2 separate regions of the Homo sapiens genome follow, and region 2 is linked to region 1. The links come from fine-mapping of genetic effects on gene expression. A gene starts in region 1. The other region holds a variant in brackets. All regions are shown on one strand. Distances are between the middles of the regions. Region 1 holds the start of CDK14 (cyclin dependent kinase 14). Region 2 overlaps CDK14 (cyclin dependent kinase 14).

The links. PIP is the estimated chance that this variant, and not a neighbour inherited with it, causes the effect.
Region 2: its variant is fine-mapped to the expression of CDK14 in skeletal muscle (GTEx, PIP above 0.99).

The regions. Positions count from the first base shown.
Region 1 is chr7:90,590,457-90,600,907 of GRCh38, forward strand. CDK14 (cyclin dependent kinase 14) reads left to right here and starts at 5,865. Exons shown (of 15, transcript NM_001287135.2): 1 at 5,865-6,262. The coding sequence starts at 6,172. RefSeq lists silencers at 5,473-5,672, 5,693-6,002, 6,193-6,392, 6,453-6,502.
Region 2 is chr7:91,203,791-91,214,241 of GRCh38, forward strand. CDK14 (cyclin dependent kinase 14) reads left to right here. Exons shown (of 15, transcript NM_001287135.2): 15 at 3,375-6,800. Among named protein-coding and RNA genes, the nearest start is that of FZD1, 55 kb to the right of the region's middle. The variant G/A (reference allele first, on the strand shown) is at 5,761.

The DNA.
Region 1 (10,451 bases):
AAAGTGAGACTCCATCTCAAAAAAAAAAAAAAAAAAAAAAAAAATTGATTTCAATGGACCTTAGTTTTTTCACCTGTAAAATAGGATCATAAAAGACAACTCATAGGGTGATGGTGAAAGTGGAGGTCTTCAATTGCCTAGTATGTAGCAATGATTCCACAAATGATAGTTTAAAAATGTTTATTTCGATCACTTACAAACACCAATTAGAGAGGAATCCTTTTTCCAAAGTCAGTTGTACATCTTTCAATACCACACTTTTAATTTCTTTCCTATAAGGTAGGAAAAAGCAAAATACAGTGTCGTAAGTTAAAAGTTTGGATGCATTTATTAACCTGTCTGAGTATGGCCACTTTCTTGAACTCTCTTTGCTTCAGAAGAGTTCCTTTCTATACAATAAGGACAATCATGATTATACCAAAGTATATCAAAAGAAAAAGAAGTGACTACCATCATGCAATCAAAATGCTTTATAAAAGGAAACATTTTGGTAAACAAGTGTGTGTCAATTTAGAACTGGAACCTGTGTAATGATCTTGGGCACATACTTTTGGCATTTCTAGGCCCATTTTCTTGTGTAACCTAGTGATAATGATAATGCCTCTTGGGGTAGTATGAGTTAAGATAAAATGAGATCATTAATTCATAGCCTATTATAAAACCACAAGTTATAATAGTAACATTGTACAGTTATAAATATTGAGTTATTTTAGCTAGAGAATGTCATATGTGCAATGATACTATCAATATGACTTCTATAGATACTTTTTTTTTTGGCTTGTAAGTGCTTGATTAGAATAGACATGTGAATGCAGATGAACTGTCAAAGGGCCTGGGAGGAAAGACTAGGATGTTTTTGATAGAAAAGGTGCATTTCTGAACTTAATTGTCCTTAACAGGACTTGTCTGGACTGCACAAAAGCCATAAGGTTTTAGTTCACTAAGGTTTTAGTTTCTGTCCACTTTCACATCCATGTCCAGGGTTCAATTACAGGGCTGGTCTCTGAAGTTTAGTTTTGATGAATGCAACATGATACATTGAAATTGATGCCATTCATGACTGAGGACCCACAGTTAATGGCACATCTGTACCACAAATACAAGTAATACCAAAAGCATTATTAAGTGAACTGTATCTTAGAATAGTGTTAGATGTTTTCTCGTATAAATGCCTATAGTACAAGTTATGTAACAATAAAAAACATGAATGATATGCATTATCATATTTAAGCACGGTTTAATGGGAGAGGGGAACTTACCAGTTTTTAATGCATGCTTTGACGCTGGTAGTTTATCTTCTGCAAACTATTCTGAGCTAATTTATGTTTAACATCATTTGGATGTTTTTACAACTTCTTTGTCTTTCTTACAGTCATTGGCAAGTAGATCAATTTACTTAGGTCCCTTGGTCTCTTGAGATGTAGGATGAAAAAATGTACAATTACCTATAAAATAAGCAAATGTAGGTCTCATTTTCGAACAAGACTGGAGGTTTTGTGTCAGCAGACAGTGATTTCTGTAAACGTGAAAAGGCTCTGAATTAGGAAGGAGTAGGCAAAGGATGGGTGGTGGAACAAGGAGGAGAGATGAGGGAAGCCTTCATTGACCTGAGTTGTGAATACACTGGTTTCTGGAACCTTCCATTTTACTCCCCTTTCTGATTTCAATTTGCTCTTTGTCAAAGAAAAAAAAAAAAGAACTCTTTAAGTTTGGATACTGTCCAATAGTTGGAACATAAGGGTTGGTGACAAGAGTTTTAGAGTCAATGTACCAATTTTACTGATGACTCACTGAGAACTTTGTACAAGTCACTTAACCTTGTGTTACTTCAGTTCCTGATGTGTTCAAAAAGGATAAATTTGATCCTAAAACTAGTTAAATAGGTTGACTATTTAGAGCTCTAAGAGGATATTTAATAATGTAAATGTCTACCACTTTAATAATTATACTCTGGCACTATGTCTTAATCTTTAACTATCTATGCTTTGGCTAAATTCTAAAACTTTACATTATAAACATATCTTTTTGAAACTCATTTTCCAGCTCTATTCTTCATGTTCTTGGTATCCTTGTTTCATGGATTTCTTTTCTCTGATAATATTTTAAAAACTGTTTCAGATCAATAAGTCTGCTTTTGCTGGAATTTTGGATTCTAATTAAATCCTTTATATTTTATCTTACTTAAATTAGGATTCTTTCCCTTATAATCTACTACCAGCATACTAGCCTGATATTTTTCTTATGTGGAAAATATCCACATTTTATTTTATAATAAAAGCATAATGTATATGTAATGTGACTAGAAATGATGTATCTTAAATTTCACATAATTTTTGGCAATGAATCCTTGTCTATCTTATTTGTGTATGACTTACTCTTCATTAATATATCTATCTATAGTATATAAGATGGAAGAGGGAAAATTTCATCATTACATTTTATTTATCTATTAGAGATGGGTTCTTGCTGTGTTGCCCAGGCTGGTCTTAAACTCCTGGGCTCAAGAGATCCTCCCACCTAAGCCACCTGAGTAGCTGAGACTGTAGGTATGGGTAATTGCTTCTGGCTCACCATTAACTTTAGAATTAGAATTTTGCAGCTATGAATGGACCTAGAGGTTATCTAGTTCAAGCCCCTCATTTTATAGATAAGAAAATAGGTAAATCACTTACTTGTCTAAGGCTACAATGCACCTAGTGATAGACAGTAGGGACTAGAACTCATGAGTCCTGGGTCCCCAGCCACTTTTGTTACTACTGAACTCCAATACACTTGTATCCTTTAATTGGTGAATTTGGTTAAGGTCAACCCATGTTGGGTTCAGCCTCTAGATAAGCTTATCTCTTTGTACTTGAACACTGCACCTTTAATTCAGGCCATGCAAAACTATAACCTTGTAAACCAGAAGTTGAGATGGAGAACTGGCACAGATCCATTCTCCTACTGAAAAAACATGCTACACAGATGCTGGATAGTCATCTTTGTTTCCAAGGACAACACATCACTTCTCAGAGATAGCAATCCATTCTATATTTATTTGACAAACATTAATTTACATTCTCTATGCAACAGGCACTGTGTGTTTCATATCTTAGGGTCCCTGAACTTACACTGTTTAAGATGAAGGCAAATGTGAAACAAATAATAGTAGAAAGAGTTGAATAAGTATACATATCTTAAAAGCGTCAAGTTAAAAATGTCCTTCTTTGCATTGCAGTTTCTTGCAAAATTTGCTCTTTTAAAATATAACCAGGAAAGGGAGCAAGATGAGCATATAATGGAAAGTTGGTTACTCATAATTGCCAAGCTTTATTTGGCCCAGGCTTAACAGGTGTTTCTCCTGCCAGGTATACTGTTGTAACTAGAGGAAGTTGTTCTGGAGTTGGGAGAGCTGAAGTTTTGAAGTGGGGTAGGGAAAAGGAAAATATTCATTATGTTTATATTAGTATTTTTATTATTATAAAAGTAAAGCATTCTTAGAACATTCAAACTATACTTAAAGGTATAAATTGCAAAGGGAAAAGTTCTCTCTGTTCTGGATATACAATCAACAGTTTTCTGTTCTTTTTTCCAGAAATATTCTATGCATATAGGAACACATAGATGTGTATACATTTTTTCCACAAATGGTTTAAAATATTAAACATGCTTTTCTCCCAAATTAGCCTGTACATATTCACACATCAGTACACACTGATCTCATTTAAGAAAATTGGTGCATACCTTTGTATGCTTTTACCATAATTTAAGAAGAAGCTGACTACTTTTTTTAAGTCAGAAATACTGGGAAGGGGAAGAGCATGGTGGTGGTGCACGCCTGTAATCCCAGAACTTTGGGAGGTCAAGGCGGGCGGATTGCTTGAGCTCAAGAGTAGGAGACCAGCGTCGGTAACATGATGAAACCCCGTTTCTACAAAAATTAGCCAGGCGTGGTGGTGCGCACCCGTAGTCCCAGCTATTTAGGAGGCTGAGGTGGGAGGATGGCTTGAGCCCAGGAGAGAAGGTTGCAGTCAGCCGAGATGGCGCCACTGCACTCCAGCCTGGGCGACAGGCCCTGTCTCGGAAAAAAAAAAAAAAATACTGCGAAGGTAAAATAAACATATATTTAACATATTATATATTTGAAACAGCCATTGTCACAGTGGATAACAGTCACAGGTGTATAATAGTGAAAGTTCGTTAAATTAATATTTCTTCGTGTTTGTTGACTCGTACAACCCATTAGTGTTTTGATTGGTTGCATTTGTCTTTTCATTCATAACTGCTGAAAACTTTCTCCCTAACTAACCTGAGGAAGTGGTAAAAGTCAAACTTTTTTCCGGTATGAGGCCACCCTTGGTGCTGTCTGTAATTATCTAGACATGGCAGCCAGGATCCAACAGCTTTGCGTTTTAACTCATATGGTCTTTCCTGGCGAATTCCTTGCCCCCCTCTGCTCCCCACTTAGCTTGACTTCCTGTCTTTTATCATCCGCAATCTATCAAGATCCTACAATGTGCTCAGTGTAGGGCGGAACAAATCACTGTTTTACCTCACAATTTAAGGAAGGCAGGGGGCTAGTTTTTAAGATAAAAATCTTTTAACAAAACATAAACTCCCCAAAATTTCCTACAAGCCAAACAGCATTGTCACACCCTCACAAGCTCTTATTACTTACACAGCCAAATGACTCAAGATTACTAACGTTTCTATTCATAAGGAGTTTGCTGGCCTCAGATCAACACAATCAAGCCCTCCCCCACCTTCCTTCTCTCTCCCCTGGGAGACTGACGTTTGGAACTCACGCCGCACCAGGTTTTTTCAGAATGAAGACGATGTGTGTTCGCTGCTGGAACTGTTTGTCCTGGGATTTTATAAACACCTCCCCCACTCCTTTTTAAAGTTCTGTTTTTGAGGTGGGGGAAAAGGAGGTCGGAATCTGTTTAGCCTTTAAATCTCCCAATTCAGAAATATATTCTAAGAATTTAATAGAAAAAGACCAAGGGCTGTGTCTGCTATTTACTGCAGAACTGGGTATTCCTATCAGAAATCACCTACATGTGTCACCAAGATCAGAGACAAGGATGAGGGAAACAGCATGATCCCTGCCTTCTGGAGGGTTACAGTTGAAGCTTCCGCTGCTTCTGCACTTGACCTCAAAACAAACAAAAAACCCACCGCAAACAACAACAAAAAAATCCAGGCCCACCTTTCCCCTTGGATCTTTCACTTGACAGCTTTCTCGGCCCAAAATAAGGCACCCTACATCTGAATGCATCCCTAAGGCCTTACCGCACCCAGTCCAGGAGGCAGTCCTGGCAGCTGCCCTCCACCGAACTCCGCGCTTTTTCACACACGCTCGTGGAAGGAGAAAACCGCTCAAACAACTGGACTCGGCCCGTTTCCTTTCGGTAACCTCCCCACAGCCCAACACGCTGTCCCCAGACGCTGCCCGCTCCCACCCCGGTCCCTTCGTGATCCTCCCGCGCGCGGGCGGGGCGGGGGAGGAGCGCGGGGGCGGCCGGGAGGGGCGCGGCCGGGAGGGGGCGCCGCCGGGGCGCGAGCCAGACACAGAGGGCCGCGGAGGACGCGGGAGGCGAGCGGGGAGCCGAGGTCGTGCTAGGATCCCGCGCCCAGGGGCCTTCGTCGAGGGAGGGGCGTGGCGGCGGCAGCAGGAGGGCAGCAGGAGCTGTCAGGCTGGCGGTTCCGCGCCGCGGCTCCTTCTGCGCTGCGCCCGCAACTCTGGGCTGAGAACTTCTCCCGCCGGCCCACTCGCCCTCGCCCCGCGCACTCGGCGCCAGGCGACTCCCGCACCTTGTACCCGGCCCGCCCCGCCTCCTCCTTCGGCCGCACCACTCCCCCTGCCGGCCGCGCTTCTCTCCGTTACAAAGGAGGGAAAATGAGCCGGGCGGCGGCGGCGCGGCGCGGGGCCACCACGGCGGCGGCGAGCGCGGCCGCCCCCGGCACCACGTAAACCGCCCCCGCCCGCCCAGCTGCGGCCCAGGCCGGAGCGGAGCCTGCCGTCCTCCGCCTGCCTGCTGCTCGCCTCCCTAGACCTGCGCGTCGCTTCCCGGCCCGCCGAGGAGGTGGTGGAGGAGGAGGCGCCGCTTTCCCCGCGGCGCGCGCCCTCGCCGTTGTCTGAGCTGTGCCTGGACCAGTTTGGGGAAGTTGTCGGGGCTCCGCGTCGCCCAGATGTGTGACCTCATTGAGCCGCAGCCGGCCGAGAAGATCGGCAAGATGAAGAAGTTGCGGAGAACTTTGTCGGAGAGTTTCAGTCGCATTGGTGAGTAGCGCGCTGCCCCCGGCCCCCCCAGCGCCCGCTCCCCTCGGCCTGCGCCCCCGCCGCGTTCCTGGCACCAGCCATGCAGCTGCCAGCGGGGCTGGCGTGGGGTGCGTTGTAGGCGGGGATCGAGGGCACAGTGCTAGGGACCCGGGGGAGGGCAAGGACGTAAAGGAAAGAGACCCCTCTTCCTCAGGATCTGGGGGTTCATTTGTAGATTCTCTCAAGCCTACAATATGGGTTCTCCCCTCCTCCGCCACTAGTGCTCGCCCTTTCGCGCGCGTGGGGGACGGGCGAGGGGACCCCTCGGCCCCCACCGCGCAAGGGGCTGCGCGGCTGCTTGGGCCACTTGTTATTTTTTGCGCACAGGCTTGGATATTGGGCGTTTAGTCAGTAATTTAGCTTTGGAAATTGGTGAAACGTTAGACTGTGCCCTGGTATTGTTTAACGTATCCAACCTAAAGGGAAGTGGGACAGTTACCTTGGGACCTATTGTTCGGTACTTCGGGTCCTGGAAAGCGAGATTTGGGTGTTCAGTCTCGAGGTCTCTGAATCTTCCCGCTGCTGGAGAGAAATGCGCGCTGTGGAGTTGTCTGGACATTTAGGAATGTCTCTCGAACTTGTTCCATTTAATAGAGCTCAGGGGCTGTTGTCTTTAAACCAAACAACAAACCAACTGACCAACAGTGTTTAGGACAGTGACGAATAAATGCATGTCACAGGTTGTAATAGGGTGACAGCAGTATCACGTGGAATGGGTTTGTTAGATTTTGAGTACTGGGCATAGAAAACCCCTTTTAACCTGAAGAGTTAGCTGCCTCCCCTACTGTCACAACTTTCACTAATAACATGTAACTGCCCTGAGCAAGAGAATGCTATAGACACAAAAGATAACCCCTGCGAGTCCCTAGGAAGCTGCCTAGTCTTTGTTTCACTTGTTTTAAATGTCATCCATGTTAACGAAAGTGTTAATGGAAATTAAACATAAAGGTACTTAATTCCTTAAAATAAAACCCTGGGATGCACATGAGTGTTACAGATATCCTTCCACCCATTCATTGTAAGATATGCAAACTTTCTTCAAGTGAGAGAGTACAATGGATCGAAATTTAGCCAAGTTTTTTTTTTTTTTTTTGTCTTTCGACTTAAAATTTTGTGTTGGTATGCAAAATCTTTCCCCAGATGACTGTAAAGTTATGGTATGAAACCAATCTTTAGTTTTATTTATTGCATGTATTGGATATTAATTTCACTCTTCAGAATTAGGGATACATGTGGAGAGTCCCTGCATTAAGATGAAGTTTGAAGCCAAGAAGAGTGTGAGAGAGGGAAATGTTGAGTCGTGTGCATTATTAACGAGGATGTTTCAACCCTGACCCAAACCGTCGCAGAGGCGGGTTCTGGAGTCCATTAAGCCGTGTTCTAAAACACATTAACTATATATTTACTAATGCTAATGATTCTGCTGGAGCCCCTCCAGTTTTGTGTTAAATAATTCATTGCAATTGAGTCTCAGTAAGAAACCAAGGACATTAATCTAAAAGTTCCTTATATTTAAATAATTTCAAGGTTTTGATCGACAATCAGTAAAATTTGGATTAAGTACAGTGCTGGCAAATGGGGGTATTATAGTTAATTGGATTTTCTAGCTTACTGAGATTTAGTGATGTGAAACTCCTTTTGAATCCAACTCTTGTTAAAATGTCTTCTAAGAGCTGGTGGATTTTATATCCTCCCTTTAGGACACAGAATGCAGTGCAGTGAGCACAGCTGATTATTTCTTGTATTGATGGAAAATATGATTCTGAATCGTAGATCTCATTATGGAGTATTGTAATAGGAGATATTGAAGTGATTATAGTTGTATACCAAGCCAACGACATTCAAAGTAGCATTACAGAAACAAAATCTGTATCTTCTTATTTTCTTGATGTTTTATATTGTATTTGCAAAATTAAAACCAGTGAACTCATTCTGATTATCTAAGGATTTTTTTTTTTTTTTTTTGAGACGGAGTCTCGCTCTGTCGCCCAGGCTGGAGTGCAGTGGCGGGATCTCGGCTCACTGCAAGCTCCGCCTCCCGGGTTCACGCCATTCTCCTGCCTCAGCCTCCCAAGTAGCTGGGACTACAGGCGCCCGCCACTACGCCTGGCTAATTTTTTGTATTTTTAGTAGAGACGGGGTTTCACCGTTTTAGCCGGGATGGTCTCGATCTCCTGACCTCGTGATCCGCCCGCCTCGGCCTCCCAAAGTGCTGGGATTACAGGCGAGAGCCACCGCGCCCGGCCTATCTAAGGATTTTTAAGGCGCTAGAGGTTGTTGAGTTGAGGGCTTACTGTGGGATTATATAGTGCATGAGTTAAGAATGTGGGCTGTGTGTCACACAGACTGTTTCCCATGTTGCCATGCCCAGCCAAGGTCTCTCAACTTCTCTGAGCTTCAGTTTTTCATGTACAACTCAGTTTCGTTGTTGGCTTTTAGTGAAATAATGCATACCATGTCTTGTGTGGCACATTAAATAAAGACTCAGTAAACGTTCAAGATATGTTATCATTGTTTTTGTTATTATTAGGAATTCCATCATACTGACATAACTGATCTTATAGATAGAAAGCAAGAGAAGAGGGAAGTGGCCATTGACTTTGTAGTGTAGCCAGCCTTAAAACGGAGTTAGGCAGGCCTGGATTTGAACTGGGTTTTCGCTGCTTGCTCTGTGCCAGTGGAATTTTGCAGCCGGTGGAATTACCCTAAAGCCCAGAGTCCTCATCTGTAAATATTCATATACGGTGAATATATGTGAAGACTAAATCGGATAAAACACCTGAAAAATCTAGTGCAGTATCTATCACAAGGTGAAGGTCAATACCATAGGCTGTCATTGTTCCTTGCAATTTCTGTTTATACCCCATCATCCTCCTTTCTTCATTGGTACTTCATGAGGAGATCGAAGAGTGAATGGTTTATTCTTGTTGAATAATCCACACTGCAACATATTCATTCTCTTTAACCAATCTAAGCTTTTGAAATAGACATGCTGACTTTATTTTGCTGCTTTAGTATTATCCAAAAGTGTAGCTTGTTGTATGGTGAAATGTACAATACTATTATTTAGCTGTAAGAAATTATTAATCATTCATCTATTGAAAATGAGGAAATATTTGAAAGTATCTGATGTCTGGTCAGTGTTTATCATTAATAATAATAATTCTAAATACATAAAGCAGTGCTAATGTTTAATTTGTTTACACATTAGAGATCATGCTGACTTTGTCACTGCCCACCCCAAATACAGCTGAGCTGAGATTACTATATTATAAAACACATGGCTTTCAAGCCATAGTGCTCTAATTTATGACATCTGCCAGGGAATGACTATGATATAGTTATGGTTCTTTTATAAGATGAGTGTAATTGAATTTTAAAGTCACCCATCAATTTCGGTAGTATTTATGGTTTTCTACTAAATAGTGTCAGCGTGGTTCCTTATTTAGGAATTACTACAGTTGTCTCACACTTTTTTTTAAAATTTAGGCTAACAAAGACAAATGGGAATTTAATTATTGAGTAGTTTAAGTATTTTAAAGTTCATTTCCTCTTTTCTTTCTTGTTTCTTTTTTATTTTTGAATGTTAGCCTAGAAGGAGAAAGGCTTTATGTAATATCCGGTGTATGATTAAGGTCAAACTGACATTTTTTCATATTCATTTGAATGCATTGCTTCATACTTATTTGGACTGTCTCCTAGAGAAAGGAAGTTTATACTCTGCGATATTTGAGATGAACACCATGTATACCATTTCTTTAAAGGACATGGTTTGTGAGGGAACTAAATAAAAAGAAGAGGCTGTGATTACACTGAACTTTGGGGTTTGTTACCTTGTGCTGTAACTGTGTAATTCTAGAGTCCAGTTGTCATGTGACGAATTCATTATGTCAGAAAAGAGAAATATAAGGTTAAATGTTCAGACACAAAATTTAACTGTTGTACCACATTTTCCCCAATGCAACTTCAAAATATTTTAATTTGAAAACTACAAAATGGAATTTATATCCATGATCTTTTAAGAGAGAACCAGTGTAGCATTTTCATACACCAAAACTTAAGTGTGTCTCAAAAGATACTCTCCTTTTGCCATTGAGGTAGGACTCATTAATTCAACAAATAATTATTTAGTACCTCTTCCCCACTGTAG
Region 2 (10,451 bases), 610 kb after region 1:
GCTGAGGATGCCTGTGGACAAATGTGCTTGAAGTACTATGAGGATGAGTGCTTTCTCTTCTTGATGTCATGGTCCTCAAAAAGATGCCAGTGCCTAGATCAGAATGCATAGTTACATGGAGCAGCATGTAGAGCACGTTCTTCGTTTCCCTGAAAGAACAAGGGTAGGCTGGGGACAAAGGAGTTTGTTCCCATGTAATTATTTTTGCTAGGGTGGTGACTTCTTTAAGAAGAGGTTTGATAAAGGTATATCTGCACAATCAAGCAAGGATGAGGAGTGGTCAAGTGAGCCTTATGGAGAACTGCCCACAAGCAGCAAGGATTTGAGATAATAACTGTTGGGATGTAGAGGTAGCAAAGGGCCTATGTGTGGTATCCATTTACCCCCAGGCCTCTCCTGGAAACTTAAGGCTTTTGTTTTTGAGGACAGAGAACTCTCAAGAATAGAAGGTTACCCCTACCTCATACCATATACAAAACTTCACTCAAAATGGACCAAAGATCTAAATGCAAGGGCTAAAACTATAAGACTCTTAGAAGAAAATATAGGGGTAAATCTTCATAACCTTAGATTTCACAATGGATTTTTAGATATAACACCAAAAATATAAGCAACAAAAGAAAAAAAAAGATAAATTGCACTTTGCCAAAATTAAAAACTTTTGTACATCAAAGGACACAGTTAACAGAGTGAAAAGGCAACCTATGGAATTGGAGAAAAATCATACTATAAGGGATTAACCAGAATGTGTAAAGAACTCCTACAACTCAACAACGAAAAGACAACCCAATTTAAAAATGATCAAAGGACTTGAATAGACATTTCTCCAAAGAAGATATTCATATGGCCAACAGCCACATGAAAGAGTCCCCAACAGCTTGGGCATGGTGGCTCATGCCTGTAATCCCAGCACTTTGGGAGGCCAAGGCAGGCAGATGGCTTGAGCCCAGGAGTTCAAGACCAGCCTGGACAACATGGTGAACCCCTGTCTCTACAAATATAAAAAATTAGCCAGGCATGGTGATGTGTGCCTGTAGTCCCAGCTACTTGGGAGGCTGTGGTGGGAGGATCAGCTGAGCCCAGGAAGGTCAAGGCTGCAGTGAGCTAGGATTACATCACTGCACTCCAGCTTGGGTGGCAGAGCAAGACCCAGTCAAAAAAAAAAAAAAGATGCCCAACATCATCGATCATTAGGGAAATGCAAGTGCAAATCAGTTCATACCCACTAGGATGGCTATAATTTTTTTTAAACAAACAAATGTTTTGGCAAAATTGGAACCCTTGTGCATTGCTGGTGGAAATGTGAAATGGTACAGCCATGATGGAAAACAGTTTGGCAGTTCCTCAAAAAGTTAAACATATAATTTCCATATGACCTAGCTATTCCACTTCTAGATATATACCCAAAAGAATGGAAAACAGTGTTTAAACAAATACTTATACATGAATATTCAGAGCAGCACTATTCACTATTAGCCAAAAGATGAAACAACACAAATATAAATCAACCAATGAATGGATAAACAAACTGTGGTATATTCATACAATAGAATATTATTCAACCCTAAAAAATAATGAAGTACTGATTCATGCTACAACATGGATGAACTTCAAAAACATCATGCTAAGTGAAAAAAGCTAGACAAAATGGGTAGCATATTATATGATTCCATTTGTATATCTAGAACAGGTAAATCCATAGAGACAGAAACATTAGTATTAATAGTTGTCAGGGGCTGGGACAAGGAGAGAATGGGAGTGACTGCTTAAAGGATATAGGATCTCCTTTGGGGGTGATGAAGATGTTTTGGAACTAAATAGAGATGATAGTTGCACAGCATTGTGAATGCACTAAATGCCACTAAATTATATTCTTTTAAATGATTAATTTTTTATATAAATTTTGCTTCAATTTTTAAAAAGAATGGAAAGTTAACTTGCCAGAAACTCACCATAGTAAGTGGGGGAAATGAGCAGATGGTGGAGAGAATGCTCTTTTTATTTTTATTTTTTTTATTTTTTTGAGAGGGAGTCTTGCTCTATTGCCCAGGCTGGGGTGCCGTGGCACAATCTCGGCTCACTGCAACCTCTGCCTCCTGGGTTCATGCCATTCTCCTGCCTCAGCCTCCTAAGCAGCTGGGACTACAGGCACACACCACCACGCCTGGCTAGTATTTGTATTTTCAGTAGAGACGGGGTTTCACCATATTGGCCAGGATGGTCTCCATCTCCTGACCTCGTGATCTGCCCGTCTCGGCCTCCCAAAGTGCTGGGATTACAGGCATGAGCCACCGTGCCCGGCCACTATTTTAATGGTTCCTGAGCATAGGAGTGGAATTTCTGCTATCTGGACAAGGTATTGCTGGGTTGCTGCTATGCAGGGGTGATGTCCTTGATGCCACAGCCTGTGTGTGCAGCAGCAGGACAGGTGCACTGTGAAGTCTCAAAAAAAGGACAAAACCTTTGGGATCAGGCACCATCCAGGGTTCCCCCTGCATCTGGGAAGATGACTCTATGGCCCTGTAGCTGGAGACATGAAGGCCTCACCAGGCCTTAGTGACCAGCAGCTTCTAAACTTAGCTAAGGAACTGGTTCTGGGATTCAGTGCAGCTAATGAACCGATCCCTCAGCTATGTGCCTTGAACCTGGGAGTGTTTCCACCCATCCTGGCAAGGCATTCTTTTCCCATCCTGGAGACTCAATGAAAATGCTTAAGGGCCAAAAGGAAGTACGGAAAGGGACAGAGTGAAGCTTCCTTCTTTTTGCTTGAACCATTCACCCACAAGTTGTTATTGTTTTAAGCAGGCATTATTGGAAACACGCAGTCCTATACAGGATGTTGGGAAGAGGCTGCCAATTCAGGTCACACTGGCCAATTTTCATTCTGCTGGAACTGAAATAATGATAATAGGCAACCAAGGAATTATATACAGCTGAATTTTTTTAAAAGCGTGTTTGTGATCCGTTTTTCTATTTCATGTTCATAAAAATGAACATAATGATACGTCCTTTTAATGGTCTGTATGATGCTACAGGCACTTAATTAAGACCAGTATTGCTACTAATGATTTAGGGAAGGAAATTTGCTGAATTTCTTTTTCTCTAAATATCCAAGAGGAAGATAGACCAATTCAGTTGGTGGAGTTAAATGATTTTAAGAGAGGAAAGTGTAGTCAGAACATTTGTTTATCATATTAGAAGGATTTTTTTTTGGTTAAGGAGGCTATTCTGCTTCATATTTATGTGTTTGGAGTGGCTGTGGGGAACATCAGTGGACTCACTTTGGACTGACCAATTTTGATGTTTCATGTAATTTAGAAGAAATGAATGGTGTAGATTTTTTATATAACAATTTTCTATTTTCCTCCTTCCAGGATTAAGTTGTCATCATTCTGGGAAGAAAAAAAAAACATTAATGAAGAGGCCAATAATATGAAGGGAATCATGGATCAGTTTTCTTTCGCTCCCTGTGGTGGATTTCACTTACAAGAAAATTGAAGCTGGCAAGACCCTGTTTTCTCTGCAATTTATTTAAAACCTTGCACGCATTTGGATACCTTGTGATTTCCAAGAACTACGTGAAGATTAAGCTTTGCTTACTGATACATGGCATGTATTCTTTTCAGTCTTTTGTGTTTGATTTTGTTTGATTTCCCTCTGCAGCACAGCGTCTCTGTAAAGGTTTTTATGCTTTCACCAGCCATGTCTTAAATACATTAAGACAACACATTTGGTGTTCACACTTCTTCAGTAATGTCTGAACTTGAAAGCCACAGAGTGGCATAAAACAATGTGTGTTTTCTTTGAGAGCAGTGCACATTTTGCAACCACTAGGAAGGAAATTTTCTGCTAAAGCAAACCCCTGTTCTCTGACTTGACAACTTGGCCCCGGACTGTGGGGCCCCACCTGTTGCTTACCTTTTGAGGTAATTTTGCAAATGTGGTTTTTTTACTTGGAAATAACTGCACATTTATATATAGGATATTGGACTCTGCTTAGCATTTTCAAGCCACATAGCATGACTGTTTTTTGAATAGGTTGGAATTGAAAAAACAATTATCAAACGTTAAGAACAAAGACAGGGATAAATTGCTTACATTTCAACCTCTGGAGATTGAGGTAACTTTTTGTGTCTGGGTCTTGTCAACATCTAATTTTTTTCCATCCATTCTGTTACACTTTGTATTTTCTAACTGGAGAAAAGAGTGAGGAACAGAATGTTTTAAATCTGGTGCAAAAGAACTATATCTGCTGGATGAGCCTTGAAAGCAGTCTTGGCCTGTTAGGGCTTACAAAGTAAATTACAAAGTGATCCAGTTCAAAGTTTGCTTAGTTACAACAAAGCACCTTTAAAAAAAATACATTTTAAAAAAACATTCCAAGCCAATTGGAAGACATCATTGGGTTCTTACTTTAAGACATCTCCTGGAATAACTGTTCAAATGCAGGTTTTAGAAACAATGCAGGAATCTTGCTTTAAAGATGAAAAAGGGAATGGGCCAGCTTCCCTTACTCAAGGAGTTGAGGGACCTTGGAGGATGAAGGCGAGTATGTGACACTGGAGAAAAGTGGACCAGGCATGTCTTTTGCTTTGATCTGGAGGGAGGGCTGCCTGATGCAGGCCGGCTCCCAGTGGGGCAGGCCTCGCTGCAGAATGCCCAGTAGTACTGCGGCCAAGGGGACAGTTAGGAGACTTCATCTAAAGCATGAAACCTAGCTCCTCTACACACAAATTCCTATGGAAATACCTTTGTGTACAGTGTCTTACATTTTCCTATTAGTCAGAAAGAAGGAGAGAATGAGTGAGTGCTTGAAATGTGTCATACTGTTTTAGGATCAAGACTAGGAATTAGGAGCCAGGTTGACAAGGACTTTTTCTGAGAGTTGGGTGAGGGTAAAGCTTTTCTATAATCAAGCTCAATACACCAAGGAAACTGGATCCAGAATTCCTAAACTTTAAAATGGTACTGTCTGCGGAGTGGAGTATGGATGGTTATGTCAAAGTCATAGTTCATCCTATCCAGATGTAGCATTCATGGTAAACTTTTAAGTGCTAAGCAAGGAATTATTTACTGATTGGTTTTAAAGAGAGCAGAAAACACCCAAGTGTAGAATGTCTACTGTTTGCTACCTAGAAATCTTTTCCATTCCTCTTTCATACATTCCAACCCACTGGAAGTCTTTAGAGGTATTTTGATTTAAAGTATACTTAAATTAGGATTTCTTAAAGAAAACATAGGGAGAAAACTTTACATGCAATTAAAAATGGACTTTCCTGTGATTTGTTTTTAATCATTCATTTGGAGAAGAGGCATGACCTTTGTATTTCACTAAGTTTAAAGCAAGAGCAACTGATGATTAAATGTTGCTTTTTAATAAGGTTTTTAACTTGAAAATTTGAAAATATTTAATGTTGAAAGACTTCAATTAGGGCTATTAGAGTTATATCTCCCTGTCGTAGGCAGCTTCTTCGGAGAAGTGAAATATAACATTACTCAGTGGACGGAGAAATCTGTTTTGTTACAGAGACATGCCTCTCAGAAGGTCAGGAGGTTTTGAGTACCTATCCTTGCCACCCATACAGGAAATCCAAAGTTTGGTGTCTCTCTCTCTCTGTCTCTTTCTTTCTCTTTCTCCCCCCAAACCCCTCTCACTCCCTCCCTCCCTCTCTCCTTCCCCTATTTGCAATCATATTCTCCCTCTGCTTCTTTTCTCTTCTGCCCTCCTTGTGGGCAGTCATGAAAATCAATTCAGACTGT[G/A]TTGATTAGCAGATTTATTATTCTATTGAGAAAGCACTGGAATGTTTTGTGAGATTATTTTTATATGAAGGAATAGCCTGAACTCAAACAGATGGTAAGAATAGTACAAACACCTTAGCACATCACTGCACACACAGTATTCTGAAAGGAGATTTGACACTTAATTCCCATTTTCTTAAAATAACAGTTTTGTTGACTTAAAAATATGAGATACATAGGATGTGAAAAAAAATGTTTGCAGTACTCAGCAAAAAATAGGGTACATAAAGCAGGGTGGCTGTCCATCCACTGATTCTGGGGTGAGAAGCGATTTCTACCTCGCAAGAGTGACTAGAAAGTTTCTAGGAGCACCTCCAGGCTTGCAAAGAAAGTGAGGCCTCTTGGTATCCTTTCCTCAGTGTGTATATGACAGCCAGTATAATCAATACCCTAGGTTATGCGTCTATATGATACTCATCTGTGAATATTATTGGTTTTGTAATCTTTGTTATATAAGAGGATGTTTAGGCTGTATATACTGGGGTAGATTATTGCCTGCCCCTTATACATAGGAATATGCTGCATAATTGCGCATAACTTCCATCTCCCTTACTGGCTTGTAGGCAGAGGAAACTGTATATGTTACTGCCTTGTACTTTTCTCATACACCAAAAACACACCAAAAAAATCAATAAAATAAGCAATCTTCTATTCTCATTCCTTTTCCCACAGCAGCATATTTTAGAGGCACATACAAAACCTACATTCTCTAGTTGGGAGTGGATTTTTAAAGTTTTCCTTTTATCTTTTATTTTTTTTTGTATGATGCACTGAGATGTGTACTTTCTAACAGGGGATTGGTACCTAAGAAATGTGGTAGCATTATTCAGAAAACTATTATACTTTCAAATGACACATAGTAAGGAGAATGGAATAATACATGTTGCATATTTGTTACCAGTTGTAATTTGTCTGTATTATGAAAGATGTAATGGTTTGTCAGCTGTCACTGTTGTTTTCTTGTAACATGATATGGAATAAAGTATAGCAGAATCTCCGTACATGTTCTAGGTACATCTTCTTGGTGGATGCCCAGTAAGAGCATATACCATATCAAAGAAACATTGACTTAAAAACCTCTTGAACACAACCATTCTTACACAGTGAAATAAGAACAAATACACAATATGTGGGAAGGAGTGAGTTATCTGGAATGGTCCAGGAGTCTGTTAAACCCTCCCCTTTCCTTGATTTGCTGTGCCAAATTTATGTAAAGGAGTAGAGACCATGCGAAACAGATCTGTGAGCTGCAGGATCTTCACAGTTCCCCCAGCCCCTTCCTGATGTTCACACATGTCACATGTTCTGCCCATCTCAGATGGATCTGGAGCCTTTCTGGTTCTGTTTAATGGCAGCCCTATTTATCTTTTATTGCCTCCTTCTCTATTTTTTGCACATATTCAAAGATGGGGTGAGTAGGTTACCCTCCACTGAATACAAATACAAAAGCTTGAGTGTACTGGTGTTCTGCAAGAAGCATGACTGTTCTTTCTGAACTGAGCTTACTTCCCTGAACACCACGCAGGAGGCATCTGCACCTGAAACTGCAGGGCATTCTTGGGATCCCACGTTTGGATTGACAGTGCCAACCTGGGAGGCCAGTCCCTTTTCCATCATCACCTTTTCCTTCTTGTCAGATATGTCATAACCCCAAACAGGCCCCCATGATTTGATAAATTGCTAATAATGTTCATGCCAGGTATTTGGTGACTTAAAAGTGTTCACGGGCTGGGCGCAGTGTCTCATGCCTATAATCCCAGCACTTTGAGAGGCTGAGACGGGTGGATCATCTGAGGCCAGGAGTATGAGACCAGCCTGGCCAACAAGGCAAAACCCCATCTCTACTAAAAATACAAAAATTAGCCGGGCATGGTGGCGGGCGCCTGTAATTCAGCTACTCGGGAGGCAGAGGCGGAGGTTGCAGTGAGCCGAGATAGCGCCGCTGCACTCCAGCCTGGGCAACAGAGAGACTCTGCCTAAAAAAAAAAAAAAAAAAAAAAAAAAAAAGTGTCTCACAAGTTCACGTTCCATGTTAAGAGGACCCCCAAGACTCCCAGCTTTCTTCTGGGCAGACGTTTACCCACCAGGAGCAGCTACCTGATGTTTTCCTTCACCTGCTCTTCTCCTGTAACCTCTGTGATTTCAGTTTGTAAACCCTTCGCACAAAACCAAACATAGGTGTCCTCAGCCGATGCATATTTCTCTCCAGAAAAGCTCATGAGAGTGACCGCATCTTCATCCCCCAAGTGCTTCTTCTATTTCTCCTGAAGCAGTAAATCGTCTATACACAGGCAAACGCATTTCCAGACAGTTGCTGCCTCCACTACTGGATTCTGGAACGGGAGAGTGCATGGAGGTAGACGTCACAGTAGCCAAGGTAGAGATAATAGGCACATTTCTTAGTTAAATGGGAGCCATAAATCACCCTTGAAACTGATTAGAATTAATAGAAGTGTGAAATTAGTAACTTGTTCCAGGGAGTTGTTTCGAGGGAGCAAAATGTATGGCACTGTTTCACCTCCTAACAGCCACAGTAGCCTGTAGGCTCATTGTTGAGATCACTCCCAGCAGCCTTGCAGCAAGGTCACATTTTAGAGATGTAATCACATCAGCTCTTAGTAGAAGAAAGAAGGGGATGGAGGGTAGATATCTACAAGAGGCCAAAGAAACACCTTTGAGAAATATTTTTAACTTTTTTAATGTGGCAGTACAAATGTCAAGCATCATCTCAGTTTCATAATTGCCCAACGTTCCTGTCTTTCAGCGGGGCCTATTCCAGCTCTGCCAGGTTGGAGGACGTGATGTGTGCTCACTGAGGCAAGCAGTTCGAGTCAGGAGGGCGGCACTCCTATAGTCGCTGTTGGCCTCCCGAGTAAAGAGAAACCAGAGGGGAAGGTGTTGGAGCAACCTTGTGCCACTGGGTTAACACGTACAGTTGCTGAATAATGGCGGGCATTGTAAATCTCTGCAATGAGAACCCCACAGTGGCCCAGCAGCCTGCTGCTACCAGTGGGTGGTGGCGTTATGGGCATTAGCTTTGAGAAGCTTATATAGCAGAGGGGGATAGGATAAAGGACACAAATCAGGGAAAAACTGACAAGATTAAAAAAAAATCCAAGGCCTCGTATTTACTGTTCATCCCCCATGCTCTCGGTGTGCTATATTGTCTGCGTTGAGTCATGCTGAGAGAGAGCCAGGCACAATAATAGCTCAGAGCAGCCTTGCAGCCCCAGAGCCATCCTCTGCCAATGGTGCTGACTGTGCTAGTGGAGAATGGGATTCTGATAGAGCTGTCTTTTTTCTCCTTCCCTGCGAGACCACCAATAATTATGGAGGGCATGCTGCACAGATGGCGTAAGGGTTCCCCGTTGGGGTGTATCCTGAGAAGTGACCCAGCAGGGGTCCCTGCAAAGCTATGTGCTACATAGCGCAAGGTGTGCCTGCCTGAGAGATGCGGATAATGCCAGGGATACATGTTTGAAACAACGGTTCAAGGGTTTAGAGAGGTTAAAATGGAACTTAGCTTATAAATCATACTACAGTGAGAAACAATTAGTCTTTTGCCCCCTCTCCATCTTCAACCAAATCTCATCACTGGGTACCTTTCTTCCTCAAGAAAGGCTGTAATCCACTAAGATTCCCTGGGAAAAGCAGGCCAGTCCTGCAACCATCTTGCTTAACATTTGGGAAATTCAGACCTTCATGTATTTATTCCCTTAGCCCAGTGGTTCTTAGTCCTGACTCTCATTTGAATCACCAGGAAGTTTTAAAAAAAAAACCCCACCCCAAACCATTCAAGAAATATTATGGGTGGCGGGGGGTCTGCTTGGAGAAATCAACAGGTGATTCTATTGTGCAGCCAGCGTGAGAACTGCTAGACTCTTCCTTTCCTCCTGCCTGTCTGCTACTCTAGGGTGAGGGTCAGGAAACTGTTTCTATAAGGGCCAGATAGTGAATACTCTAGACTTCCCGGGCTGCACGGTCTCTTTCCCAGCTACTCACTTTGCTGCTGTAGTGTGAAAACAGCCATGAACAATACATACATGAATGAGCATGGATGTGTTCCAATACAGCAATTTGTGGACACTGAAATTTGGGTTTCATATAATTTTTACATGCCACAAAATATTGCTTTTCTTTTGATTTTTTTTCTTTTTTTATTATACTTTAAGTTTTAGGGTACATGTGTACAATGTGCAGTTTTGTTACATATGTATGCATGTGCCATGTTGGTGTGCTGCACCCATTAACTCATCACTTACATTAGGTATATCTCCTAATGCTATCCCTTCCCCCTCCCCCCCACCCCACAACAGGCCCTGGTGTGTGATGTTCCCCTTCCTGTGTCCATGTGTTCTCATTGTTCAATTCCCACCTATGAGTGAGAACATGCAGTGTTGGTTTTTTGCCCTTGCGATAGTTTGCTGAGAATAATGGTTTCCAGCTTCATCCATGTCCCCACAAAGGACATGAACTCATCATTTTTTATGGCTGCATAGTATTCCATGGTGTATATGTGCCACATTTTCTTAATCTGGTCTATGACTGTTGGACATTTGGGTTGGTTCCAAGTCTTTGCTATTGTGAATAGTGCCGCAATAAACATACGTGTGCATGTGTCTTTATAGCAACATGATTTATACTCCTTTGGG